Linked DNA regions of Homo sapiens. The protein of the gene in region 1 purifies or fractionates together with the protein of each later gene. This does not show direct contact. Each region holds a gene or a part of one and is shown on either strand. Other genes may lie near its edges.

Region 1 (4,076 bases):
TAAAAAACATATATAATTTCTCCAGGAAGTTTAAAATAGAAGAGGCAACCCAGATTCAGACTCCCAGGAATACTTGGTGACTTTAAAACACACTGATTGAAAGAATGTACATTGAGAGGAGGGGTATTAAGACAGCACGCTGGCTGGATTCCACCAATCTCTCTTAACTCTAAATCTTCCCATTCTTTTCTTTTTCTTTTTTTTTTGGATAAACTTTTTTTTTTAACTTAAAGTTTTTGGGTACATGTGCACAACATGCAGGTTTGTTACATAGGTATACACGTACCATGGTGGTTTGCTGTACCCATCAACCCGTCATCTACATTAGGTATTTCTCCTAATGGTATCCCTCCCCTATCCCTCCATCCCCCCTTCCCATTCTTTTCTAATACACTATATTTCTTCAGTGTTGTCATTGTCACTTTCCCAAACTAAAATTAGGACTAGATGGAAATGTGGACATCTCAAATTATTAATCAGGTGTTCCTTCAAATTAATATTAAAAGTATTTGTTCACCACTGATTTAGAGAAGTTGGGCAAGGTATAAATAAGGAAAAAACAGAGATGGGAGCATTACACTGCACTCGGCAAATGAAAATGAAAGGCCTTACACTCAACTAGTTCCATCCTTAGAATACAATCTGGTCATCATCTTTTGTCACTTGAACTTGACCCTGAAGGAGGGGGTCTCTGTACCCTAAGTGGCTATGCACAGCATTCCTTCCAAAGACATGGAATATGCTGCCTGAAAGAAGATCTGAAAAATACAATTGTTTCTTTCCAAATTTCCAGTAATGTTTTAAAGGTCATTATAGACCACAGCAAAAGTTATCTCACTCCTTCTTTTGGTTTTGCTTATGACAGTTCCCTACTGTAAATACCATCAAATCTAATTTGGATGGCAGTAACTGGCCCTGTTATCTACCATTTGGTCACAGAAGTCTTCAGTGTTGATTGTTGAGTGAGAGTATAGGAGACACTGAGTTAGTCTTTTTCCCTCAGTATCTTTACACTATTCAAATCTCTCACTACCTATTTTCTCAGCTGTCGAATGCAGGTAACTTCTGCTCTGCTACTTCACTTAGGATGGAAGAAGAGGAAGAAATACATCACCTATTCACTCAACAAACACTTTGAGAAAATACTAGGGAAGCCACTTATACTTCTAGGGATATAAAGATGAATACTAGAGGGTTCTTGTCCACAAAGATCTCAACATTTCACACTTAGGATACCAAAAAAAGCAGCCTATGATAGAAGAGAGGCCACTGAATTTTGAGTCAGAACGAGGCAAATATCCTGACTTGATCACTTACACATAATTAGTCTCTCCTTCATCATTGGAAATACAGGATTTTTGTGAAACATAATGTGTATAAAGGCCCTAACAATGTGCTAGCCACATAAAAAACAGTCAATAGATGGTATTTATTATTTTTGCTATGGATGAGTGTTAAAATAATAGATATGTAAAATGTAAAATGCTACAGAGCTTAATAGGGAATAGTACTGGGGGAGGAGGGAGAGGAATAAGATGATTCTTCAATTGGACCTGAATGTAAGAGTTTTGCCAGGCAAATAAATGCAGAAAAGTGCCTCCCAGCAAGCACAGTGTAACAAAGCACACAAAGGGAAAGAAATTAAAGTGTTTCTAAATGAACAAAATTGTTACAGTGTTTGCTTGTGGGTATTAGTATCTGTTCAGCAGTTATTATGTGGCAAGTACAAATTTATCTTTACAAAAACCCCTGTGAGGTAGATATTGTACTCCCCATTTGACAGATCAGAAAACAGGGGTTTAGCAAGGATAAACAACCTGCACGGTAATACATGGATGCTATGGGGTAGAGCCAAGGGAACAATCCAAGTGTGTCCGACTCCAAAGGTTATGCTCTTGGAAAATCAAACTGGAGAGAATGGCAGCTCTTATAAAGCATGCCAAGGATGTGGTCATTTATTTAGGAAACAAAGGGGAAACATTAAAGGTGTACAGGCTTGACACATTCAAAGCTGTGTTTTCAAAAGTCGTTCTGCAAAAGTGTGGGGGATGGGCTGGCACAGTTAACATCAGAAAGCAGCTAAAATACTCCTGCAATTGCTCGAGGCTATGATGAAGGCAGCAGCATCAGGAATGGAGCGGGGCTGCCCTGAGACACCTCAGAGGCAGGACAGTGGTAGTGGGCATGAAAGGGGAAGCAGAAATGCCATGACTCCTGGGTTGGTGGCTTGGATGGTGCCATTAGCAGGCTTTGGGAATCCCATTTTCACTCATGTGACGTTTGATGATGTCTGCATGTGAGACATCCAGTGGAACCTATGAACATGAAGTTCAAGAAATAAGTCTGGCGGAAGAAAGAGATTTGCAATTTAAAACCATCTTAATAGGTAAGAATAGATAGGTGCACGAAGACACGCACAGGAAGAAGGGGAAGGCCGAGAAAACAGATGCACAGGCGCTAGAAGAGACTGGCCAACATTCGCTTATTCTAAGGGTGGCCTGGCCGGCTTGAGCCCCCACGGGAAACCTGGCTAGCCGCAATCCTGGCGTGGCACGGCCCTGGGGACCCCAGGCACCGCCGACAGCCGGGCGCCCCCACCCCGCCCCCACCGGCACCCCGGCCCGGGCTTAGGCATCGTCGGGGACGCATAGGACCCTCGCCCTGGCCCCCGGGCCTCCCGGCTGCATCTGCTCACCGAGTCTAAGATCCAGCGGACACCAGGGCTGCAGGCCGCTACCAAGGCCCCGCAACGCCACCATGATCCCAGGGCACCGGCTCGCCGCCGCCGTGCTCAACTTTCAAAGCTCGCTCCCGCGCGCGCGCCGAGTCGTTCCTGTGGACCAATCACAACGTACAGAATTTCCCACTGGCCAACCACCGCGCCGAGCCGTTTCCATTCGCTCAACCAATCACCGGCGTCGTCCGCCGCACGCTCAGAGAACTGGGCGGGCCGAAAAGTGGAAGCCAAACAAGGCTCCTGCGGGTGTTCCGCTAATTCGTTCGAGAAGGAGCCAGGGCCTGAGTTAAACCCTAACAGCGTTTTTCCCGCCTCGTTTTTCTTCAATGGGGGAAAATCTAAAGGGTATCTGAGATAGGGTACTTCCGGTAGTAACTGTCACCTTTGCCCTCGTCAGGCGACATTTCGCGTGCGTGTCAAAGGGCTGCCTTTCCCGTCAGCACTCGAACAGCGTAATATCCGAATGTGAAAGGCAGCCCAACGTGTATCGAGCTAAAGTAATAAGGGAAAAGTAGCCGAAAGCACTCCGAGAAGACAAGACAACTGCAGTTCTGTAGGGACTGCGCGGCACGCGTGGGCCCAGAGCCTGTCCCAGCGAGGTAGCAGCTGCCATGCCGACCGCTGGAGCGCCGGCCGCGCTCTCCCTGCGCATGCGCAGCGAGCTCTCCTCCGGGCTGCCGGGAGTCCCAGGAGCGTTAGGGGGTGCGCCTGCGCGCCGCTGCTCCAGCGCATCCGGGCTGGAGCTCGCCCGCCCCCTCCCCCGCCCGGAGCCGCCGAAGCGCCTCGGTGCGTTGCACCGCCGGAGGCTGGGCAGCTCGCAGCGCTGCTCGGCGCTGGACCCCACCCGGCAGGCGCAGGCCACCCACACCCGGCTCTGTGCGGCTGCCCCCCGCAGCATTGCACGGCCGACCCTCGCCCGCCCACTGCCACCGGCCGCGGGACTGGCTGGGACTGGCTCGGCCGAGGGCACTGCTCCTCGGTGCATTGCTGCTCGGGCGCCGCAGCCCGCAGCCGCCAGCCTCCCCCGGCCGTGCCCCTCCCCCGTGGAGCCGGCTGTCCGTCGGCGCCCACTGCCCGGCGGCAGCGGCGGAGCCAGGCAGCCCCGCGGCGGCCGAGCGCGCTCGCGCATCGGGCCCTCTGGCCTTCTTTACCTAGGGCAGCCCGCGCCCCGGTGCGAGGGAGCGGTCCTTACCGAGACCCGCCCGGCCCGGCGGTGCGATGAGCTTCTTCGGCTTCGGGCAGAGCGTGGAGGTGGAAATCCTTCTGAACGATGCAGAGAGTAGGAAGCGGGCCGAGCACAAGACGGAGGACGGGAAGAAGGAGAAATATTTCCTCTTCT
Region 2 (3,500 bases), on another chromosome or scaffold:
CTCCACCTCCCCGGTTCACGCCATTCTCCTGCCTCAGCCTCCCGAGTAGGTGGGACTACAGGTGCCCACCACCATGCCCGGCTAATCTTTTGTATTTTTAGTAGAGACAGGGTTTCACCATTTTAGCCAGTATGGTCTCTATCTCCTGACCTCGTGATCCGCCCGCCTCGGCCTCCCAAAGTGCTGGGATTACAGGCGTGAGCCACCGCGCCCGGCCAGTTCTGTATTTTCTATACTTTCCCTTATACTCTCTGACACTGGCTTTGATTTGTAACAGCATGTCGTCTGCATCCCTCAGGCCAGCCATCCTCATTTGGAGATGGAGTTAGCCCTTCACTTGACAGATGAGTAAATTGAGGCTCAGAGAGGGGGCGTGACTTGTGTGAGGTTATACAGTGAGGTGGTGGCTGAGGCAGGTTTAAAATTGAGAACATGGCTGGGGGCAGTAGTTTGTCCTAGTGCTTTGGGAGGATGAGGCGGGAGGAACACTTGAACTCGAGACCATAGTGAGAGCAACATAGTGATAGCGAGACCCCATCTCTTAAAAAAAAAAAAAAAAAAAGGCCGGGCACAGTGGCTCACACCTGTAATCCCAGCACTTTGGGAGGCCGAGGTGGGCAGATCACCTGAGGTCAGGAATTCGAGACCAGCCTGGCCAACATGGTGAAACCCTGTCCCTACTTAAAACACAAAAAATTAGTTGGGTGTGGTGGTACGCACCTGTAATCCCAGCTACTCGGGAGGCTGAGGCAGGAGAATCATTTGAACCCAGGAGGCGGATGTTGCAGTGAGCCGAGATCGTGCCACTGTACTCCAGCCTGGGGGACAAGAGCGAGACTTCATCTCAAAAAAAAAAAAAAAATCAGTTGGGCGTGGTGGTGCACATCTATAGTCCCAGCTATGTGGGAGGCTGAGACAGGAAGATTGTTTTAACCCAGGAGTTCAAAGTTACAGGGAGTTAGGATCACACAACTGCACTCCAGCCTGGGTGACAGAATGAGACACTGTCTCAAAAAAAAAAAAAGGTCCAGGCACGGTAGCTCACACCTGTAATCCCAGCACTTTGGGAGGCCGAGGTGGAGGATCACTTGAGCCCAAGAGTTTGAGACCAGCCTGGGCAACATAGGGAGGCCCTGTCTCAACAAAAAGAAGAAAATTAGCAGGGCATGGTGGTGCACGCCTGTGGTCTCAGCTACTTGGGAGGCTGAGGTGGGAGGATCTCTTGAGTCTGGGAGGTTGAGACTGCAATGAGCTATGATCACGCTGCTGCACTTTAGCCTGAGCAACAGAGCAAGATCCTGTTTCAAAAAAAAAAAAAAATATCGAGAACAGTTCACTGAAAGGTCAGGGCTCTTCAAGAGGTTGAACTGAAGCAGAGAGGAGTGAGGGGGCCATAGCCCAGGCAGGAGCAGGAGGAAGGGAAGACATGTGTGTGGCTTGCGTGGTGAGGACCAGATACAGCAGCCAGGGGTAAAAGGCCGGGAGCAGTAGCTCACTCCTATAATCCCAGCACTTTGGGAGGCCGAGGCAGGCGGATCACTTGAGGTCAGGAGCTCGAGACCAGCTTGGCCAATGTGGTGAAACCCTGTCCCTACAAACAATACAAAAAATTAGCTGGGCGTGATGGCGGGCGCCTGTAATCCCAGCTACTCCGGAGGCTGAGGCAAGAGAATCGCTTGAATCTGGGAGGTGGAGGTTGCAGCCAAGATCGCGCCACCGTACTCCAGCCTGGGCGACAGAGTGAGACTCCATTTAAAAAAAAAAAAAAAAGAATGACAGGCTGGACTGGTTGGGGTCATGCTGATGTGCCCTTGGGCAGCCTCGGGGGTGGCTGTGGTGAAGGTTGGTGGGTGCCCTCTGCTCCTGCCCTGACACTGATGGTGTGGGGTAATGGCTGCAGCTTGTGTTTCCGAGGAAGCCTCTTCCAGGGATATTTAGGAGGTAGTGTTTCTTGGGGTGGGTTTCTGTTCCTCTCAAAGGGAGAGCAGTGTCAGAGGTTGGTGTCAGGTCCAAAGCAGCAGATAATGTGGTGATGGTTGTGGTCTTTCTGCAGCCTAGTGGCTTTTTTTTTTTGAGATGGAGTCTCGCTCTGTCGCCCAGGCTGGAGTGCAGTGACACGATCTCAGTTCGCTGCAACCTCCGCCTCCTGGGTTCAGGCGATTCTCCTGCCTCAGCCTCCCGAGTAGCTGGGATTACAGGCACGCACCACCACGCCCGGCTAATTTTTGTATTTTTACTAGAGGTGGGGTGTTCATCATGTTGGCCAGGATGGTCTCGATCTCTTGACCTCGTGATCTGCCCACCTCGGCCTCCCAAAGTGCTGGGATTACGGGTGTGAGCCACTGCGCCTGGCCAGCCTAGTGGCTTTTAACTGCTCTGCCGAGACGCCTGGGGACAGTATGGGGACCTGGAGAGGCCAAGCTGGAGGGGATACTGCTGTGTCATTGCAGAGAGAGCTGTTTTACACATGGGATTTGGGTAAAGCTTGGATGAAGAAAAGGATTCTGCTGCCCTGCAGAAGTTTGGAAACCCCTGCTTAGGCGCCTGCTGTGCTGCAGTGGGAGCGCTGGATAGCAGAGCTGTCAGTGTGGCGGGCGTTCGTTTAGGCAGAAATTCATTAAGCAGTGTTTGGTTGGCACCTACTAAGTGCTGGGCCTGGCTTACAGCACTGTGAATGCACAGGGCGGGTGAGGCGAGGGCTCTGTCCTAGAGGAACTCCCAGACTCAAGCTTTTAGCTGAGTAAGCTGGACCCAGAAGGCTCCAGGAGGAAGCAGAGGAGGCGGCGAGGCCAGTGGGGTGCTGGTGTTGGGCACAGCGCCGTGAAGGACCCAACCCGGGACTCGGGCTCTCCTTGAGCTCAGCAGGAAGCCTCACGGCGGAGCAAGGAGGAAGTGGCCCTGAGCATGAGCCCTGCAGGCCCAGGCTGAGCAGCGTCTGCCTGCCCAGGAGAGCCTCACCCTGGCCTGTCTTTAGGAAAGTAGGACCCAGGCTTACTCAGTGAAACAAGTTCTTCTGGGCATCGTGGGGCAGCTCACTCACCAGGAGAAGCTCCCAGAAGAGATCTTTAGAGGATTGCCCAGAGAGGATGCTGGGGTTAGGCTTAGGGAAATACAACTGCGACAGTGGTTTTCCGCTTTGGTTACTTGGTAGAGTGCAGGTGGAGGCAGTGCCCTTCTTGAGAATCTATTAAAATTGTGGAGCCAAATGCAGTGGCTCAGGCCTGTTAGCCCAGCACCTTGGGAGGCAGAAGCGGGCAGATTGCTTGAGGCCAGGAGTTTGAGACCAGCCTGGGCAATATAGTGAGAGGCCATCTCTACAAAAAATTTTTAAAGAGTTTGCTGGGTGTGGTGGCGAACACCTGTAGTACTTGGGGATTTCAAGGTTAGAGTGAGTTATGATCGCACCACTGCCCTCCAGCCTGAGAGACAGAGTAAGGCCCTATCTCTCCAAAAAAAAAAAAAATGCTGTGGGCTTCTCCCATGAACAGACACCTAGGCTC
Region 3 (3,955 bases), on another chromosome or scaffold:
GTGGCGCATGCCTGTAGTCCCAGCTACTCGGGAGCAGAGGTTGCGGTGAGCCAAGATCGCGCCATTGCACTCCAGCCTGGGCAACAGGAGCAAAACTCCTCCCCCTCAAAAAAAAAAAAAAAAAAAGAAATCTGGTGGCTCACGCCTGTAATCCTAGCACTTTGAGAGACCGAGGCAGGCGGATCACCTGACATCAGGAGTTTGAGACCAGCCTGGCCAACATGGTGAAACCCCTTATCTACTAAAAATACAAAAATTAGCCGGGCGTGGTGGCGGGTGTAATCCCAGCTACTTGGGAGGCTGAGGCAGGAGAATCGCTTGAACCTGGGAGGCGGAGGTTGCAGTGAGTGGAGATGGCACCACTGCACTCCAGCCTGGGCCACAGAGCGAGACTCCATCTCAAAAAAAAAAAAAAAAAAAAAAGTGAAGTCTTTACATAAATGGATTACGTGTGCTGCCCTTTGAGAAGTTTGTTGATGAAAGGAGAAAGGAAATAGTAGCACCAGAGGAAAAGATCAGGGATTTACCCTGTTCTTACAGGATAACAGCTCCTTGCTCTTTTCAGCTAGCTTTTCAAAGGACAGGGATAGGACAGCCCCCTGCCTTATTTCGGATACTTGGATCTATAACCTCCAGAAATTCAAGCTGAAGTAGCTGGAGGTCGGAGAGGAATGAGAACTGCCTGGGTGGGGTCTGCCAGCCAGACACTGCCAGGATAGCCACAAGGAGACGACTTGGAAGAACAGACAGCAACCACGTTGGACTCAGGCAGTCCTGGGTTTGAATCCTGTCTCTGTCACCACCTAGCCTGATGACCTTGGGCACATCCTGAGCACCCTGTGCCTTATCTGTAAAATGGAAACAATCATGCCGACCTTTCAGGGTGGTTTTGAGGATTAGAGACTAGCTCCTGACACACAGTAGGTAATCGTAAATGGGTGCTATTGTTTGGCCCGACCCACGTTATAGGACAGAACGTCTAACGGATGCGTCAGAACCTGCGCCCTCCGGATCTTGGAGGGTACAGAGGGCGCCCCTCGGCCTCCTCCCTTTCGGAGGTGGGGACAAGGTGGAGGAAGGGCTGCAGGAGGAGGAGCTCTAGCATCGCGACCCGCCCCGTCCCGTCCAGTCTGGCCTGGGCGCCGCGGGAACGCTGTCCTGGCTGCCGCCACCCGAACAGCCTGTCCTGGTGCCCCGGCTCCCTGCCCCGCGCCCAGTCATGACCCTGCGCCCCTCACTCCTCCCGCTCCATCTGCTGCTGCTGCTGCTGCTCAGTGCGGCGGTGTGCCGGGCTGAGGCTGGGCTCGAAACCGAAAGTCCCGTCCGGACCCTCCAAGTGGAGACCCTGGTGAGGAGATAGTCCCGACCCTCAGCCCCCGTGGGCCGAGCCTTGTTGGGTGGTAATACTGGGGTCTCAGCGAACCTGGGAGCCGGGAGGAGAGGAAGTGCGGGAACTGAGTTGGGGGTGGTGCCGGGTCTAGGGGCGAGAACGGGATCTTTGGAAGAGCATCCGTGACCCCTGTAGTCCGATCGTAGGTGGAGCCCCCAGAACCATGTGCCGAGCCCGCTGCTTTTGGAGACACGCTTCACATACACTACACGGTGAGGGGTCTGGGGGGCCGGGGCGGGGCCTGGGAGGGGGCGGCGCCCTGCTGAAACACGTCAGCTTTGGCTTGGACACGTGGCAAGCGGTTCGGGAGAAGAAACTCGGGGCTCTGGGGTCGTCGAGCACGTGGCGAGGGGAGAGACGTTGCTCTTCCGTGCCTCTTTTCCCTCCTTGCTTTTCTGCCAGTTCCTACCTGGCACGGAGAAGTGCAGGGTGGAGAGATCTCCGAGAAGCGCCAGCCTTCTGGGGCTTCCTGTTCCTTACAGCGGTAAGGGGAACGCTAGGCTGCCGCACTAAGGGGGCTGCCGCCGCCCAGCGGTCCAGGTGTGTGTTGCGCGCCTGCTGGGAGGGAGAGGGTGCTAGATGTATGCTCTTGATGCTCTCTCCCCCCAGGGAAGCTTGGTAGATGGACGTATTATTGACACCTCCCTGACCAGAGACCCTCTGGTTATAGAACTTGGCCAAAAGCAGGTGATTCCAGGTATGTGACCTGTGCCTCCCATTCCACCTCTTCCCAACCTAAGCCCTTTCTTAGCCTCTTCGGCTCCAAAGCTGCCCTGGAAATCCCCCCTGAAATGAGTAAGACCCTAGGGCTCTACGAGTTACCTCCTGAGGTTCAAACCTCACTTCTAGTACTCCACTTGTCCCATATCCTATTGGAAGCCAGAGATTTAAGAAGTGAGGGAAAGGTCAATTGAGGATGGAGGAGGAAGACTTTGATCTTCATGTCATGGGATTTGGGGAAGGTGGATAGCTTCCAGTTCAGTTGTGTCTTCTTCTTCAAGGTCTGGAGCAGAGTCTTCTCGACATGTGTGTGGGGTGAGTATCTCGGCAGGGGTGGGCCTGGGTACCCCCTTTGCATGGGTAGAGGCTTTCTCGGCCATCCTCACTCCTTAAGCAGGAGAATGTGGAATAAAGGACCCTGCTTCCCACTGGACAGGTCCAGGTCAGTGGGACCTCTGAGGGCATTCAAAGCCTCTGTGCCTCTTGCGCTGTTGCTTTTGTCGGGGGAGTTGAGGCACATGGGGAGATGGACACCTTTGCTGGCCAGCCTGTTTGGTGTTCAGGTGGAAAAATTCGTGTTTTGGGTGTGAAGATTCAGGGGGTTTTGCTGAAGGAGCTTCAGCTGGACTGAGGCTGCTGGCCTACCTCTCCTGCCTCTGGCTGTGACTGACATTCCTTCCCTCAGAGAGAAGCGAAGGGCAATCATTCCTTCTCACTTGGCCTATGGAAAACGGGGATTTCCACCATCTGTCCCAGGTAATCTGACTAGGACTCTCTCTCAGGCCATCAAAATACCCAGTCCCTAAGAGCTATAAGGAGCTATATACTTTGTTTGATGCTTGAGAAGATCCAGACCAAGTTTGTTTAGACAGATAGGAGTGGCTGGGGCCTCCATCTACAGGGCCACCTTTTTCCTCCTCATATCACCAACAGGGACTAAAGACAACCTGATGAGGCCACCTGGCATGACCTCCAGCAGCCAGTAACTTGTTAGGGAAGAGACCTGCTTGGGCCACATGGGTCTGCTGCCTGTGCCACCACCTTTCCCAGAACACTGGACTTCTTTCCTGCCCTTTTCTACAACTCTACGCTGTGTCAGCTGTACAGCCACCCCCCACCCCTTCCTTTCAGCCTCCATCAGGGAAGAGACAGTAAAAATAATCACAGTCAAGTGATTCAAAACAAAACAAAAAGCAACTGTTAAAGCCAAGTCTGCCCCATAACTTTAAAAGCCATCATTGGTCACTGCCGATGTCTATTTTTGAAGGGTTGAGATGGACAGATTTCCCAAGATGCATATCTTTTGCTTTCAGTTCTAACAAATGTTCTATTAGCTAAAATGTGTTGTACTCCACAGAGTATTGGGCTCGTAATTCTTTTTTTTTTTTTGAGATGGAGTTTCACTCTTGTTGCCCAGGCTGGAGTGCAATAGTGCAATCTTCACTCACCACAACCTCCGCCACCCGGGTTCAAGCAATTCTCCTGTCTCAGCCTCCCGAGTAGCTGGGATTACAGGCATGCGCCACCACGACCGGCTAATTTTATACTTTTAGTAGAGATGGGGCTTCTCCATGTTGGCCAGGCTGGTCTCAAACTCCCAACCTCAGGTGATCCGCCTGCCTTGGCTTCCCAAAGTGCGGGGATTACAGGCATGAGCCACCGCGCCTGGCTGGGCTCGTTAATTCTTATCCTAGTTCCAGCTTAGAGGAAGGCCTGGAAGGAGGGTAGGGGGACCAAGGAGAAACTTTTACCCAAAGCCCTATTACCTCCCCATTCCCAGTGCTGCTTATTTGTACCTCTTCTGCCCACTCATTTCTGTTCCACCTGCCCCTTTACTTCTTAAGC
Region 4 (3,500 bases), on another chromosome or scaffold:
ACCTGTCCCAGATGTCGCTCAGCTCTGAATTTGGGGAGTGCTGCTTTCTCACTTGGCCCTGTCCACGTGGCTTCTCTGAAACATACCCTTCAAGGTTGGGGTGGCTGTGGAATGTTTCCCAGAAGACATGTTCCTATACAAAGACAGAACAGGTCACATTTCATAAATCTCACATATGAGAGGCCCATGTTTTTGTCCTAGGACATCGTAAGTTTTGAATCCCAAGGGTGTTTTGGAGCTGTGGGCTGTGCCCTTCCAGTCCCCCACAGCAGTGCTGTTGCCCAAGAATCTCCTAGCGAGAGACCAGGGGCTACTGCCAGGTGACAGAAAAGGGAACATCAGTTCCGCTATACCCACAGCTCACCTGGCGGCCTGGGGCCTGCACAGGGCCTGGTTGAGGCAGTGGACCCCATTTTTGGGCCGTCTGTGGAGTTGATGTTCCTGCCAGCTGGTCCCTCTCTGTCTTCCCTGGAACTTCACCTGCAGTTTGATGCCTGAGTTAAAATTGTTCTTCTAAATAATTCACTGTAGACTTTCTGTTTTTAGCTATGTGAAAACTTCTGAGAAACTTGGAGAGTGGAATGAGAAAGTGACCCAGTCAGACCTGTGAGTGCCTGTATCATCAGCACCTCCTCCTTCCTCCTCTCCGCCTCCTGACACTCAGTCGGGGAAGGGGGCTGTGCACACTTGGCACAAAGCTTGTTTTGGTATTTGCTGGCTATTTTTTCTTCCTATAACTTTTCTTCTCTCAGGTAAACTATCCTTTAAACTTTTGTGGAACAGGGAATAGTAGCTGAGAGAAACTCACTCAGCCACCTGACCACACTTAAAACTCCCCTCTGCCTGATATGCGTCCCTTATGTAAGAGGCCTGCACTGGTCCTGGCTGTATCTCTAACTAATAGAGCTCCTTGGCTTCCGGCAGTGCACAAGCTGGACAACACCACTTGGCCTGGGTTTGTTGGTGGCGAATTTTTGTTTGTTCTAACCCTAACCCTTTTCCCTGCTTAGCTCCAGCTGTTGGGTTCTCAGAATTCCTTTCCTCCTTTAGGGGTAGTTCTTGAGTGGAGGGCATGGTGTAGGATATGCTGGTGGAAATTTGAAATCCTCACGATCTGGGAGGCACTGCATTGTCAGAGCATCAGCCAGTGTGGATCAAGTGTGGATAGTTTTGTATGTGTGTGTCAGTGGTGTTGTTCAGAGTGACTCCTAATATTTGGAGATCCTTAAACTAGATAATAGCACTTCATTTACTTGTGCTCTGATCTGATTATAACGTCTTTAAACTGAGGAGGGGAATATTTTTAAATAGTCTCTGTGGGATTTTTTCATCTGTTATTTAGAAGGAAGCGCTGTAATCGTTGCCACAGAACATGGGCAGAAAGTCCTCCCATGTTGGTCTGAAAGGAAGCAGTTGCTGCCGAGCTTGTCTTGAAGGTCCTGGGGGACCAGGCTGGCACTGCGTGCACATGGAGCCTTTGCGTCTGGTGTCACGGTGGGAGGCTGGTGTCAGGAACCCCGGGCGGTTCTCGGCATGTTGCCCCGGGTATTCCAGGGACCCGGGTGGTTCGTGGGCATGGCTACAGCAGCCAGCTGTACATCTGGGTGCTCTGGGGACCCGGGCGGTTCACGGCATGTTGCCCTGGGTATTCCAGGGACCCGGGCGGTTTGTGGGCATGGCTACAGCAGCCAGCTGTACATCTGGGTGCTCTGGGGACCCGGGTGGTTCATGGCATGTTGCCCTGGGTTTTTTTTGTTTGTTTGGTTTTTTTTTTGAGACAACGTCTCGTTCTGTCTCCCAGGCTGGAGTGCAGTGGCGCCATCTGGGCTCACTGCAAGCTCCGCCTCCCGGGTTCACACCATTCTCCTGCCTCAGCCTCCCCAGTAGCTGGGACTACAGGCGCCCGCCACCACGCCCGGCTAATTTTTTCTATTTTTAGTAGAGACAGGATTTCACCATGTCAGCCAGGATGGTCTCAATCTCCTGACCTCGTGATCCGCCTGCCTCAGCCTCCCAAAGTGCTGGGACTACAGGCGCCCACCACCACGCCCGGCTAATTTTTTGTATTTTTAGTAGAGACAGGGTTTCATGGTGTTAGCCAGGATGGTTTCGATCTCCTGACCTCGTGATCCGCCCATCTCGGCCTCCCAAAGTGCTGGGATGACAGGCGTGACCCACTGCACCCGGCTTGAGCAGGGTGTTCTAGGGACCCTGGTGGGCTGTGTCTCGGGCTGTTGAACAGTGACTTTGCTGGGCAGCAGATGGTTCCTAGGTTGGGACAGTGACGGTCATCCTTGCAGTTTGGGCATCAGGCGGACGCACAGTGCAGACTCAGTCTGAAAATAGTCTTAGGAGACTTCAGTGCTGTTTTGTAAAACCAACTGACATAAAGCTGCCGGGATCCTATTTCAAATAAATAGTGTTTTAGAGAGCTTATTACAACACTCAGCGTCCCGACCCCTCTGGAGAAACCTGTGGCTCAGCATGGAAGCATATGGCCAGTGCATCACCTGGCCGAGGCCATTCCCCTGAGTTCTGTGGCGAGAGCTGTCAACTGACGGTTCCAGAGTGGAAGCGTTTCTGCCGGGAAGGCCCAGGCCGAGGGCGATGGTTTCTGCCGGGACGGCCCAGGCCGAGGGCGATGGTTTCTGGTGGGAAGGCCCAGGCCGAGGGCGATGGTTTCTGCCGGGACGGCCGAGGCCGAGGGCGGTGGTTTCTGCCGGGACGGCCCAGACGGAAGGGATGCGGCTTGGGAGGTGGGGCCTGAGGATGTGGCCATGGCGCGTGCTCTTCCTGGCTGGTGCCTCTCCTAGTCAGCTTCAGGAGATGGGCTGTAGATGTACCTCCACTGCCCAGAGCTCTGCAGGGGAAGGCAGTAAAAGCTCCCTGCATCCTGACCCACGTGTTTGTAGATCCTTTCAGCTATTGGCGCCCTGGAGGATGGACGGGAAGGAGAACGTGGCCGGTGGGTGGAGGATAGCACTGGTGCCTGGCCCCATGAGGCTGCAATGCGGCCACATTCTCAGTGGGTCATGTCTGAATGCGAGAGCAGCTGTGTTCTGCGAGTGGTGAAACAATTGCCTGTTGCATTCTATTTATAGGCAGAGGTAACTAAAAACCTCAGTGCTGAGAGGGGCATCATATAGATCCTGCAGTTATGAGCTGGTTCACTTGGAGTTGTTTTGGTTGCAGGTGACAGAAAGCACGACTCAAGGTAGCATCAACCAAACAGGGAGGTGGGAGCACTCACCAGGCAGAGAAGTCCCTGCCCCCACTGCTGCAGCCCAACAGTGTGGCCCCATATGGGTCTCCCTGGACTAATGGCTGCGGCCTTGGAGGTGGTGTGCTCTGGCCAGGCCTGGATCACTTGTCCATCCTGAGTGGGAGTGGGGGCAGCCCCCAGAGACAGACTCAGGAGAGGGGGAGTGCAAGGATGTCCCCCAGATGCCCTGTGCTGCCCAGGGGACAGCTCACTGGCAGTGGGACGAAACCGCTGTCTG
Region 5 (3,500 bases), on another chromosome or scaffold:
TTCACATATGCCATTCTTCTGTTTGCAGCATTTAAGCTCTGCCTCCTCTTAGCCTGTCTCACTTGTAGCCGCTCTTCAGGTGACCTCACCTGGCTTTTAGATATCACTATTACCTCTGCTCTCCCATAGCTCCCTGTACTTCCCTATCATTACATTTGTCTTACTTTGTTGAAATTACAAATATGTCTTACCTTAGATTGAATGTTTCATGAGGATCATGTTTACTGCTCTGTGTGTGGTACATGATACACATTCAGTAAATATTTGTTGAATTCATGCATGAATGGATGGATGTCCAAGATACTGTTATTCAAAGAATTGTCTTAATCCAACCATTTTTCATCTTCTCCAACATTATTACCTTAGCCCAAGTAACCATTACCCCACTCTTAGATTCCTGCTGTAGTCTCCCAATCAGTCTCTTGGTTTCCACTCTTGCTCTTCTATAACCTATTTTCCACATAACTAGTAGAGTGATTCTGTATAAATATCAGTTTACGCCACTCCACAGCTTCTTCATCAGGCTGTTGCTTCTCTTTGCACTCAGAACAAAATCTGCACTCCTTACCATGACCTTTTAGACCCTACATCATTTGCCATTGACTGTCCTTTTGTTTTCTTCTCCTGTCACTCTTCCCTCGCTGTGCTCTGCTGCTATGACCACCTTGTTTCTGCAATACACAAGTCTCCTTCCAGGGTCTTTACTCTGGTTCTTGCCCTACCTGGAAGACTCTTCCCTGGTTAGAAAACTGGTTTACTTCCTCACTTCATTTACGCTCAGGTATTCTCGTTGTCACCCTCTCTCCCTGCTTTATTTTTGTCGTGACATTTATCTCTCGCTGCCTTGGCATTATGTGACATTTGTGCATTTGTGTATTTCTTTTGCTTCTTATTATCATGTAATCTTCGTGAGGCAAGGACTTGGCTTTGTTCACTGCTCTAGCCATTGAATCCGTTTAGCACCTACTAAGCAACCAGTAAATGTTGGTTGAATGAATAAGTGAATGTATTCTTCCAATCACCTTGAGCTGGAATCTTCAGAATCATCTGATTCTACTCCTATTCTCTCTTGGCTATGCAGCCAGTGAAAATTCTTCATATCATTTAATTTCCAGTTCAAAACTAATGTCTTCATTGTGTCTATCCCAACATTCCAAATGAAACACAACCTCTGCCTTATTTGATCCTTCAAATGTAATTAAAACTGGATAATTTAAGTCTTTAATATATATTAAAAATAAACATTTCCATCCAAATTTTGATGATTTTAGTTTATATTTATAAACTTTGTAAGTAACAGTGTAAATGCTAGTTAACTGTCTTGCTTTTGGTCAAAGATGTTTGTAAAACTAGAAAAAAAGAATGTGAATCTTTGAGAAACATCCATTGTAAAGTTTCAGACAGAACAAAATTAAATTTCAGTGTGTTTACGTATATGTTGCATTGGACTTGGTTCACCATGAATCACTAAACCATTGAAAATTTTTAAGTAAATTATTTTCTAAAATGAACTTAACTTTTATTTATGAGAAGATACACCTTCAAAATAATTTTATATTTCAAAGTTATGTGCCTATTGTGTGGAGTAACACATAAATATTCTCCAAATCACTTCATGGCAATAAGTTAATGTTTGTCTTTAAAAGCATTTACTTTTTGTTTAGGATATTATTGATTTGATATCATATCTCATAAGCAATTAAAAATGTACTGAAACAGTTTGCTGCCTCAGTAAATTTGGTTTTCTCTTTCCTATGTATATACCTGTGCTGCCTTCCTGATAGTTTTCAGCACTCTCCCACCTAGGCTGTTGTTGGATCGTCACTGTACCCACTGAGTTAATCAGTGAAGTTATTACATACGTTTTACAATATAGTAAACAAAGCTGAAGAGCATACATAACTCTTTGAGTTTACAAGCTTTTTGCAGGAGGAAGCTAGAACTCAGTATATTGTTTTATTCTTCTCCTTGATATATTTTTGTCCTGATTTCTTTCTCCAATATGTTTTTATTTTATCTCCAATATTTTATTTATGTTTTATTTATAATAACATAAATCACATATAATTATAAATATAAATTCATGTATTTATATTTAATTAAATATTTTAAAATTAATATTTAGTGTAGTCAATATGTAATATAATTAACATTTATATAAGTATTATATGCCTTTTTATGTGTATATCATTATAAATTTATAATTTATATAAATAATATACACATTAAAGTTTTCTTTTTATGCATAATATTTATTTGATTTTTTTTCATTTTTTAGATCTTAATATTTGCCAGTGATGCCTGCAAAAATGTGACATTACATGTTCCCTCCAAACTAGATGCCGAGAAACTTGTTGGTAGAGGTAAGGAAGCCCTAAAATTTGTAATAAATCCTGTTTTGCTGTGGTACATATACGCCATGGAATACTACACAGCCATAAAAAGGAACGAGATCTTGTCCCTTGGAAGGGATGTGGATGGAGCTGGAAGCAATTATTCTCAGCAAACTAACACAGGAATAGAAAATCAAACACTGCATGTTCTCACTTATAAGTGGGAGCTGAGCAATGTGAACATGTAGGCACAGAGTGGGGAACAACACAAGTGGGGCTTGTTGGGGGTTCTGGGAGGGCGAGAGCATCAGGAAAAATAGCTAATGCATGCTGAGTTTAATACCTAGGTGATGGGTTGATAGGTGCAGCAAACCAACATGGCATGTGTTTACCTATGTAACAAACCTGCACATCCTGCACATGTACCCTGAAACTTAAAATAAAAACACACATACAAAATAAATCCTGATTTGCTGTGGTATTTTAAAATTAGTGTAATTTTTAGAATGATAACTCTGTTGGGACCAGTAGATAAAACTAATGTAGTATATTATCATTTGTAATATTTGTGGTGTCATTCTAATGAAAGGAATATTGTTATTTTTGGAAAACATGATTATATGAAGTTGATAAAAATATTTCACTTGAGTAATAATTATTAACATTTACTTTAGAGAAAAGATAAAGACATTTAACATGCCTCTAAAAAATTGAGAAATAGTACTGAAACTGTTTTTTTTAGTTTAAAGATACTGTTTTTGGATTTTTATTCTTAAATATTTCACTCTGTATTGTATTTTTTTATCAATTAAATTATTTCACATAATTCTGTAAGAAAAGATCAATCCAATGATAGCATAAAATGTGATCACTGTTTAGCAATAGATGTAAAGAATTTAGTAATATTTTCATTTAGCAAATGCCAATTTTCATCTGCTAGATTCTGTATAACTTCAGGTGTATTTAGGTGTTACTCTATAGCTTATTTCTGTTGATAAAGAAAAAAATTGTTTTGGTTTTGGTTTAAAGATTCAAACACTGGAGCTCACATATGTTTACTTCAGAGCAAATGTCTCTTCTTTAAGAGAATGTTAAGTAGGTATTAGAAGTGATGTAAGTATTTAAGCACAACTTAATTCACCATATAGTTTTATGTGTCCTTTCAAA
Region 6 (3,393 bases), on another chromosome or scaffold:
TCTGCCAGGACACAGGGCTCACGCCTGTAATCCCAGCACTTTGGGAAGCCAAGGCAGATGGATCACCTAAGGTCAGGAGTTTGAGACCAACCTGACCAACATGATGAAACTCCGTCTCTACTAAAAATACAAAATTAGCCAGCACAGTGGCACATGCCTGTAATCCCAGCTACTTGGGAGGCTGAGGCAGTAGAATCACTTGAACCTGGGAGGTGGAGGTTGCAGTGAGCTGAGGTCGCACCACTGCACTCCAGCCTGGGCAACAAGGGCAAAACTCCGTCTAAAAAAAAAAAAAAAAAAAATTCTGACTGCAAGTTTTTGAAAAATGAGATTTAATGTTTAGTTGCCGGTATAGATTTGCATTTGGAGGTGCTTTTTTCCCCTACTGCAGGACTAGGCAATTTTTATATTATTTCATTAGATTATGAGAACTTCTAGAGAAATGGAATCATATACTTAATGGTGATTATTCTTGGCCATAGAATCACACGCTGTCACATTTTGTCTGGGCCTTTGCTTCTCTTGGACTGACAGCACTCTAACTGGTTTTCTAAGAGTTACCAGCCCCCTTTTTCATTTAGTATCACTACTCATTTTTCCTTTTCAGGGAATGTATCTTAGGAAACAGCTGACAATAAATGCAGAGGTTATCCTATCTGAGTTTTTACTATTTCCCAGTTCTTAAGTATAGATGTCTTTCTCTCTCTACAGGTTTGCATCACTGGTTGCTGTTTATGTTGTTGGGGGGTTCCTATACCAGCGACTGGTAGTGGGAGCCAAAGGAATGGAGCAGTTTCCCCACTTAGCCTTCTGGCAGGATCTTGGCAACCTGGTAGCAGTAAGTAACAGGGCAGCTGGTTGAATTTGTAGCCTGCAAACAAGGTTGGGTGACCAACCATCCTCGTTTGTTCACACTGAGGGGGTTCCTGGGACACAGGACATTGAGTGCTAAAACCACAAAAGTCCCAGCAAACAAGACAGTTGCCCTAGTACAGAGTAGTAAGTGGCACAGCATCCATTTCTGGCCTTGGTAAGACATTGCTGAAAGAGCAACACTGTTGACCAGATGGGCTCTTCTAAATCTGATTTAGCTTTTAAGAGGGCCTGGGTGGGAAGAAGGTGAGGCCTAATAAGAAGAAACTTTTTCTCCTGTTGCCCCAAATTGAATTTAGGCTGATTGTCAGATCTTTTAGGTTTTCTCATTATCCCTATAGAAAACCAATTCTTGCCACATTCCTAGACCATAAGTACACTTTCTCATATCCTAAAGTTAGATGCTGCGAATTATTTCCTTCTTTTTTTTCCCCCTACAGGATGGCTGTGACTTTGTCTGCCGTTCTAAACCTCGAAATGTGCCTGCAGCATATCGTGGTGTGGGGGATGACCAGCTGGGGGAGGAGTCAGAAGAAAGGGATGACCATTTATTACCAATGTAGATTGCACTTTATATGTCCAGCCTCTTCCTCAGTCCCCCAAACCAAAGCTACACAGCCAGATTTCTCAAGCAGTCTCAACTCCAGTCCCTCATCTCACCCTTACTATTGCTCTTGCTTTCCAGTTTGCTTTTGATTTGCATCTTCTCACTAGTAAAACTGCCTTCCCTTTGTTCCTTATTTTCTGTTTTTTCTCTAGAGAGGTACAGTTGTAAGTCAGAGTTAATATAATAGGGCCTGTGAAAACAGAGGCTTTTGCATTGTCTCTTGACATCAGAAGTTACAATAGGCATATGGGCAAAATGGTGTAGCAGGCTCACTGGCCGTTTGTTTTTTAAACACATTTTCACAAGTTTTTGAGACACTGGATTTCTTTAATTAAAAAAAAAATGCCAAGAAACATTATTTATACAGGGTTGATTGCTTTCATGTTGTTATTCTGTACCCTATAGTAGCCTCCATGAGAATCTGGTATTTCTTGCTGCTTGGAACTACTTTGCAGTGATTACTTGGTTGCAGTCCAAGTACTCTCGTTTAGTCTGAGCCTGGAGATGTTCTAGACTTGCTTCTCCCACCTCTGAGATTAGGACAGGAAAAATGTGAAATTTCCCAATTACAGGATTATACGGTACCATCACATCATTTGTGGAAATTGGGGTGACTGTATAGCTGGGATTGGGCTAAGGACTGTGGTCTTATCTGTCCACATACAGCCAAAATGCCTATCCAGAAATCCAGTTCGTTGGAAAGGAAAATTGGTACTCCTGTGCCACAGGGGTTCCAGAAAAGGGAAGTCACTTTACCTTGCGGTGGTGGGATCCTGATGTCTTTCATCCATTTGTAGTAAAAGCTGGTAAAGCTTTTCTTACTCCTGGTTCCCTACCAGTATTTCTAAACATGTCGCACTTTCTCCACAGGCATGTGGTTTTGACCTTTTTTTCAATCTTCTAGAAAGGGAACGGAAGCAGAAGTGGGACATCGAGGGCTCTGCTGTCCTCTGCGCTGGGTGTGGAATGCTGCTGCACCTGTCCCTTCTGCTGGCTCAGGGAAGTGTCTTCTTGCCCACATTTCTGTGGGGAAAGGTTTTTAATCCTCTGATGCTTCCATCTTCCTGTTTAGGCCATGTGCCCAGAAACCTGGACTGATCTTTCTTTAATAGTGAACCCCTGGGCCACTGAAGAGTAACATGGCTCCACTGGACACAAAAGAGGGATGGAATCAACAGGCAGGGGGCCTTTTATAAGCCTTAGGAAAAGAAAATGAAACTATTTCATCTTTGGACTTTTCAATACTATTGGAGTGATTTTTTTCTTTCTAAACAGGGAAAATAATGTTACAAAAGCATCTTTTTTGTTATTTGTTTGCATCCCTCCCCCACACCCTGGTGTTTTAAAATGAAGAAAAAAAACCATCACCTTTTGTACAAAAACTCTTAATGATTAAAAAACAAACAAAACATATTGGCCTTGTCATTTGTGTGAAAGTGGGCAAAGACTGGAATAGAGTAAGACAACTGAAACCAATTTTCATCCTTTTACTGAGGAAAAAAATATTTAATATTTTTGTTATATAAGGAATAGTGCCTAAGGCAGGTACTTATACTCCTGACCTCAGCCCCACACACTCTGGTTTTATAAAGCTATAGGACAGAGCAGAGATGGAACTGAAAAACAGGGTAGAAAATAACATAAATTGGAGGGGAACAGTGGGATGCAGAAAGAATGACAACAGCCACATGTGCCCCAGTCAAATACTTTTAGTCCCTGCAGCAGAAGATGCCAACCAAGTCTCTATACTGGCTGGGGATCCTGCCATGGATGCAGGAGAAAAAATTCAATCACAAGGGAGTAAGTGACAACAAAAAGAAAAAACTCTGAGCCACAGCTACACTGGGAGGGGGGAGGACCAGATTTTGCTACTTCTGTCACACAAGCTAGAAAAACCCTACCTCTCCCATTGG
Region 7 (4,300 bases), on another chromosome or scaffold:
ACTTTGAGAAGCTTTCTCTGAGGTCATGCTGGAGGCACGTGGAGGATGGGAGGTGAAAACCCTGGAGTGGAGAGAAGTTTGGAGAACTTTCTCTGAGACTGGAAGAGCTCTTACATACAGAGACCTCCACTGACGGGTGCCTGGGAGATTCACACTGGGAAGCTCAACTTAGAGTGTCTGAGCCCTTAAAGCTGAGCCTCATGAGTTTCAGGGAAGCCCCAGACTTCAGGGAATACATGGCTTAGACGACGAGGAGTCTATTAGACTTGAGCCAGAGTGAGATGAATGAAGGTCATAACACCCTTTCATGATTAATTGGCTGTCTGAAATTCCCGACCTTGCAACTTTTGAATGGACTTCGAGGAGTAGCATCTCATGTCTGAGAGGGATTTCCTCCTGAATCCAGTAGATGGGAACTCGGGGAACTTAAAATTCAGTTTAGGGAGAAATAAGAGGATGTCCCCCTGGTGTTACAAACGACATCTCTATTAAAAAGTGTAGCCTACTGGGCTAGGAATGATTGTCTTTCGTCCCTTTCTGACTTTGAATTATTTCCGACAGGAACTAGATTTTCTGCATTTCCTTTCTTCCATGCCCTCACACAAAGCTTGGCCGACTTCGGGCCCTGATAAATAGTCGTTGCATGATGTAGAATCTGTAAGCCTCGTTTTAGAAGGTTTTGTGTGGTAGATATTCCTTTGACCACCTGAAAAATTTCATTTTGGTACCAGTAAGTAGTAAACCAATAATTCACATCTAAGAACAAAGTCGTTTTTAGAAGGTTCATATGAGTCCCCCAAACTGACAGTTAATAGAGCGCTGAGTGTAATCACTCATATTTTGGGTGCGTAAAAATGGTTAGATTAGAATTTCTTAAATTTGGTTTTAATTTCTGACATGCCAAAAACTGTTTATCATGCCATCTGGGATAAATTCCTTCTGTCGTGTATTTTGTCATGTTAGTCAAATCCGGAGAGAATACAGTACATGTATTTTGCTTTAATCTGAAAACATTGGCAGAATTTGTTCAGACGTCGAAGGGGAGATCCGCTGATCCAATGACAAGGGTGTTCCTGGCATCCAGCAGAGCCCGTGTCGAGGCAGGGATCCCTGCGGGCGGATTGGGGTTCTGCATTGAGATGCACCGCGCAGCGCCGGCGATGGGGCCGCCCTGGGACGATCTGGGCTGCCAGGGCCTCTCTGCGGGCCGGGCGGGGCGGCAGCGCCGCGGGGCAGCCGAGGGGCGTGGGAGAACTGGCAGAGGGTGCGCCAGAGACCGCTTTCCCGAGCGCGAACGCCCGGGTGGCTGCTGGGGAGCAGAGGGGCAGGCTCGGGCAGCTCCTCAGCCGCGCCGGCGATGATAAAACTTGAGAAATAACAAGGAGTGGCCTCTCCGCGTCCTCTGGGTCCAATCCGGTTTCAGAAGTGAAGTTGCTCCCGGGCAGGCAAGCCTGAGAGAGGCCAAATACACTTAAAAACAAGCAGCGGCGAGAAAAGCACCTCCCGCGCCCTGCACCTCGGCAGGTCTCGCTCTCGGCACCCTCCCGGCGCCCGCGTTCTCCTGGCCCTGCCCGGCATCCCGATGGCCGCCGCTGGGCCCCGGCGCTCCGTGCGCGGAGCCGTCTGCCTGCATCTGCTGCTGACCCTCGTGGTAAGCCAGATCTCGCCGGATAGGGCTGGGGTGGGGACGGGGGTGGATCCGCCCTGGACGCTGCACGGAGCTGGGGACAAAGCGGGCCGAAACGTGACAACCGCGGCTCAGATCAATGCTGCGGGTCTGGTAGCAGCCCCAAGTTCGGGCCTGCAGGAGTGAGGAGAGAAAACGTGTGTTTGCGGGTCGACTCTGGACTGAGCTTTTTGTTTTGAGACAAGGTGTTCGATTGTTGGAATTCTGAGTCGCGCTCAGGCTTCGCTGCGCTCTGGCGGGCGCCGTCGCGGGTTGGGCAGGGGGTTGGGATTCACGCTTCTCCCCAGGTGGTGGAGCTGGTGGTGATGGTGGTTGGAGGGCGCCTTTGGGTGGAGAGGATCCCTGAGAGCTCAAAGCACAGACTTGAAAAGGGATTTAGGGGCTGCCCCCTCCCCAGCTCTGGGTCGCAGTTGACCCGGATTGGTTCGTTAGTGAGTGGAGCCGGGGCTGTGTCCCTGGGTCCCTTGGTGGGGCTGCCCCTGAGAAGTGGGTTTCTCGGTATCTCCCCTAAAGGGTATTCAGAAGCTCACCCAAGCGGTCCACCCCCGCCAGCCACCCAGCTGGGGGCGGGATGTGCCGGGGGCGCGAAAGTGTGGGAAGACCGGGCCAGAATGGGGGTTGGGGTCGTGTTGTGTTTTGGGGATGCTGCCGAGGTGTGGAGGCGGGTAGAGGGTGACAGTGGTGGGGGATGATGGATGCGGTGGGGTTGCGTCGTACTTACTCCGGCTCCGGGGAGGACTGCGCGGCCGGAGCACAGCCTGGGGTTTCGAGTCTACGGAAACCTGCCGCCCAGGACGAAATCCTCTAGGAGAGGAAGTTAGAGACGATGCTCTGAGAACACGGGAGACTTGAAGTGTTCGGAACTCTGGCGGCGCGGTTACACGCGAAGCTTCAGGCTTCAACAGAGTTTCATTCCGCACGCCCAGAAAGGAGCCGCGGACCCGCGACTTACCCGCATCCATGGATGCGCATGGGGTCCGATGGGAGCGAGGTCTATACCCGCGTCGGCAGTGAGCCGAGTCTGGTCTCGCGGATTCTTACTGCTTCCTGGCCCTCCACCCTGGCAAGTGGGAGTGGGTCCAAGGGTTGTCCTCCCTTAAGGTCAGCGAGGTATGAATATGGGATTGGTAGTTATGATCTACGATATGTTTATGGAGAAGGAATTGGACAAATAAGCGCATCCATTTGCCCGGGAACTGTTCCAACAAAGTATCTGAGCTTATGAAGTGACTACAAATGGAAACGGCTTAGAGAATGTGTTCTTTTGTAATATATTTAAAAGCATTTTCAGCTTTTCAGTTTACAAGCATGCATTTGGGGTTTTGTGTTTCCTTTGCGAAGGGATTGAGGATGGGGAACGAAACTACGGGTGCTGCTCTCAGAATTTCTCGCATTCGCTCGAGGCTCCCAGAGGCCATGGAAGACCAGGAGCTTTCCCGGCAAGGCATGGGTGGGGGTGTCGAGCTGTGGCAAGGAAGAAGGTGCGCGTAAATCTAAACGGAGGAAGCTTCAGCTTTGATCTAGCACATACTCGTTTAAGATTTTTTTTTTTTAAAATAATTCCGTTGAGTTTAGGTTAAATGCTGTATCTGGAGACTTAAATACCGGAAAGTGCACAGAAAATGACTATTTCATCTGCAATTGTCAGTTTACAAACACTTGCAATTTCGGACCGGATGGGTAAATTAACACTTCTCTTGACCATCTCATGTATGTATTTCCTTCCTTTTGACTCATACGACTCTCAACTTTTCAATATAATATTAATGACACGGCATTTTAGAAACATTTTTCATTTTATAGAGACTTTAATGGATATCTTTAAACCATTACTTATCTTTAAAACATTGTTTGTTCTAAGGAGACAGCTTTTCAAAGCAAGTCTTTAACAAGAATCTGAGACTTGTTAAATTTTAGTCTTCCCAGTAAGCAGCCCAACAGGTTGAGGGAATTTTCCCATTCTGCATTTTTCCTGTATCTCCTTCCCACCGTGTGCCCCACCACACTCTGAAGTGTAAATACAGTTTCTAATAATCACACGCACAAAGAAAAAAATGACAGGGAGATACTAAAAAAAGAAGTATATCAGAGCATCTCACTCACTATTGTAAGTTTTTGATTGCCTCAGAAAGTGTTTTTTCCTCTTAATGTAACCAGAATTGTTAGGGATGGTGGAAACTAATTTACATGAGATCAGTTGTCTTCTGCCTGTTACAAATAATAAGATTCTTTTAAAAATATGTGTTAATACTGTTATCAAATCCACTTTAAGATTATGTTATCTAGTATACATTATAAATGGCACATACTTGGACACGGCTAATCCATCATTTTGTTAAAAGGGCTCCTCTTCTAAAGGAACTAAAATAGTTGAAACGTTTGCAATAACTCCCCTCAAATCTGTACTTTTCCTCTTTGGAGTATATGAACTCTGCCTGCAACCTATGTTGATAAATAGGCATCCAAATTTTTATATTTGTTAGGGTTAATGTGAATAATGTGAGTCCTTACCAGAAAAACTTGTGATGTTTTTGCTCTTGGTAATATTTGATATATTCATCATTTTAAATTAAAAGGGAGTATAGTAATTTCTAAAGGCTTTTACATTTGTGA

The links.
Region 2: the proteins of NCAPD3 (region 1) and RAB35 purify together in Homo sapiens (co-immunoprecipitation; one large-scale study listed by IntAct). This does not show direct contact.
Region 3: the proteins of NCAPD3 (region 1) and FKBP11 purify together in Homo sapiens (co-immunoprecipitation; one large-scale study listed by IntAct). This does not show direct contact.
Region 4: the proteins of NCAPD3 (region 1) and TPD52L2 purify together in Homo sapiens (co-immunoprecipitation; one large-scale study listed by IntAct). This does not show direct contact.
Region 5: the proteins of NCAPD3 (region 1) and DSC2 purify together in Homo sapiens (co-immunoprecipitation; one large-scale study listed by IntAct). This does not show direct contact.
Region 6: the proteins of NCAPD3 (region 1) and M6PR purify together in Homo sapiens (co-immunoprecipitation; one large-scale study listed by IntAct). This does not show direct contact.
Region 7: the proteins of NCAPD3 (region 1) and DSC3 purify together in Homo sapiens (co-immunoprecipitation; one large-scale study listed by IntAct). This does not show direct contact.

The regions. Positions count from the first base shown.
Region 1 is NC_000011.10:134,221,168-134,225,243, forward strand, and holds the start of NCAPD3 (condensin-2 complex subunit D3), read right to left. Parts: upstream 2,801-4,076; 5' UTR 2,760-2,800; coding exon 2,696-2,759; intron 1-2,695. Other genes in the region: VPS26B (vacuolar protein sorting-associated protein 26B), read left to right, coding at 3,956-4,076.
Region 2 is NC_000012.12:120,110,254-120,113,753, reverse strand, and holds part of RAB35 (ras-related protein Rab-35), read left to right. Parts: intron 1-3,500. UniProt on the Homo sapiens protein: The small GTPases Rab are key regulators of intracellular membrane trafficking, from the formation of transport vesicles to their fusion with membranes.
Region 3 is NC_000012.12:48,922,693-48,926,647, reverse strand, and holds the start of FKBP11 (peptidyl-prolyl cis-trans isomerase FKBP11 isoform 1 precursor), read left to right. Parts: upstream 1-1,155; 5' UTR 1,156-1,219; coding exon 1,220-1,348; intron 1,349-1,525; coding exon of another isoform or gene 1,526-1,536; coding exon 1,537-1,602; coding exon of another isoform or gene 1,603-1,874; intron 1,875-1,999; coding exon 2,000-2,087; intron 2,088-2,391; coding exon 2,392-2,425; intron 2,426-2,795; coding exon 2,796-2,866; intron 2,867-3,043; coding exon of another isoform or gene 3,044-3,096; exon of another isoform or gene 3,097-3,522; intron 3,523-3,955. UniProt on the Homo sapiens protein: PPIases accelerate the folding of proteins during protein synthesis.
Region 4 is NC_000020.11:63,875,270-63,878,769, forward strand, and holds part of TPD52L2 (tumor protein D54), read left to right. Parts: intron 1-546; coding exon 547-606; intron 607-3,500.
Region 5 is NC_000018.10:31,092,422-31,095,921, reverse strand, and holds part of DSC2 (desmocollin-2 isoform Dsc2a preproprotein), read left to right. Parts: intron 1-2,278; coding exon 2,279-2,363; intron 2,364-3,500. UniProt on the Homo sapiens protein: A component of desmosome cell-cell junctions which are required for positive regulation of cellular adhesion.
Region 6 is NC_000012.12:8,939,861-8,943,253, reverse strand, and holds the end of M6PR (cation-dependent mannose-6-phosphate receptor isoform 1 precursor), read left to right. Parts: intron 1-711; coding exon 712-838; intron 839-1,313; coding exon 1,314-1,436; 3' UTR 1,437-2,893; downstream 2,894-3,393. UniProt on the Homo sapiens protein: Transport of phosphorylated lysosomal enzymes from the Golgi complex and the cell surface to lysosomes.
Region 7 is NC_000018.10:31,039,943-31,044,242, reverse strand, and holds the start of DSC3 (desmocollin-3 isoform Dsc3a preproprotein), read left to right. Parts: upstream 1-1,500; 5' UTR 1,501-1,582; coding exon 1,583-1,651; exon of another isoform or gene 1,652-1,801; intron 1,802-2,408; exon of another isoform or gene 2,409-2,710; intron 2,711-4,300. UniProt on the Homo sapiens protein: A component of desmosome cell-cell junctions which are required for positive regulation of cellular adhesion. Required for cell-cell adhesion in the epidermis, as a result required for the maintenance of the dermal cohesion and the dermal barrier function.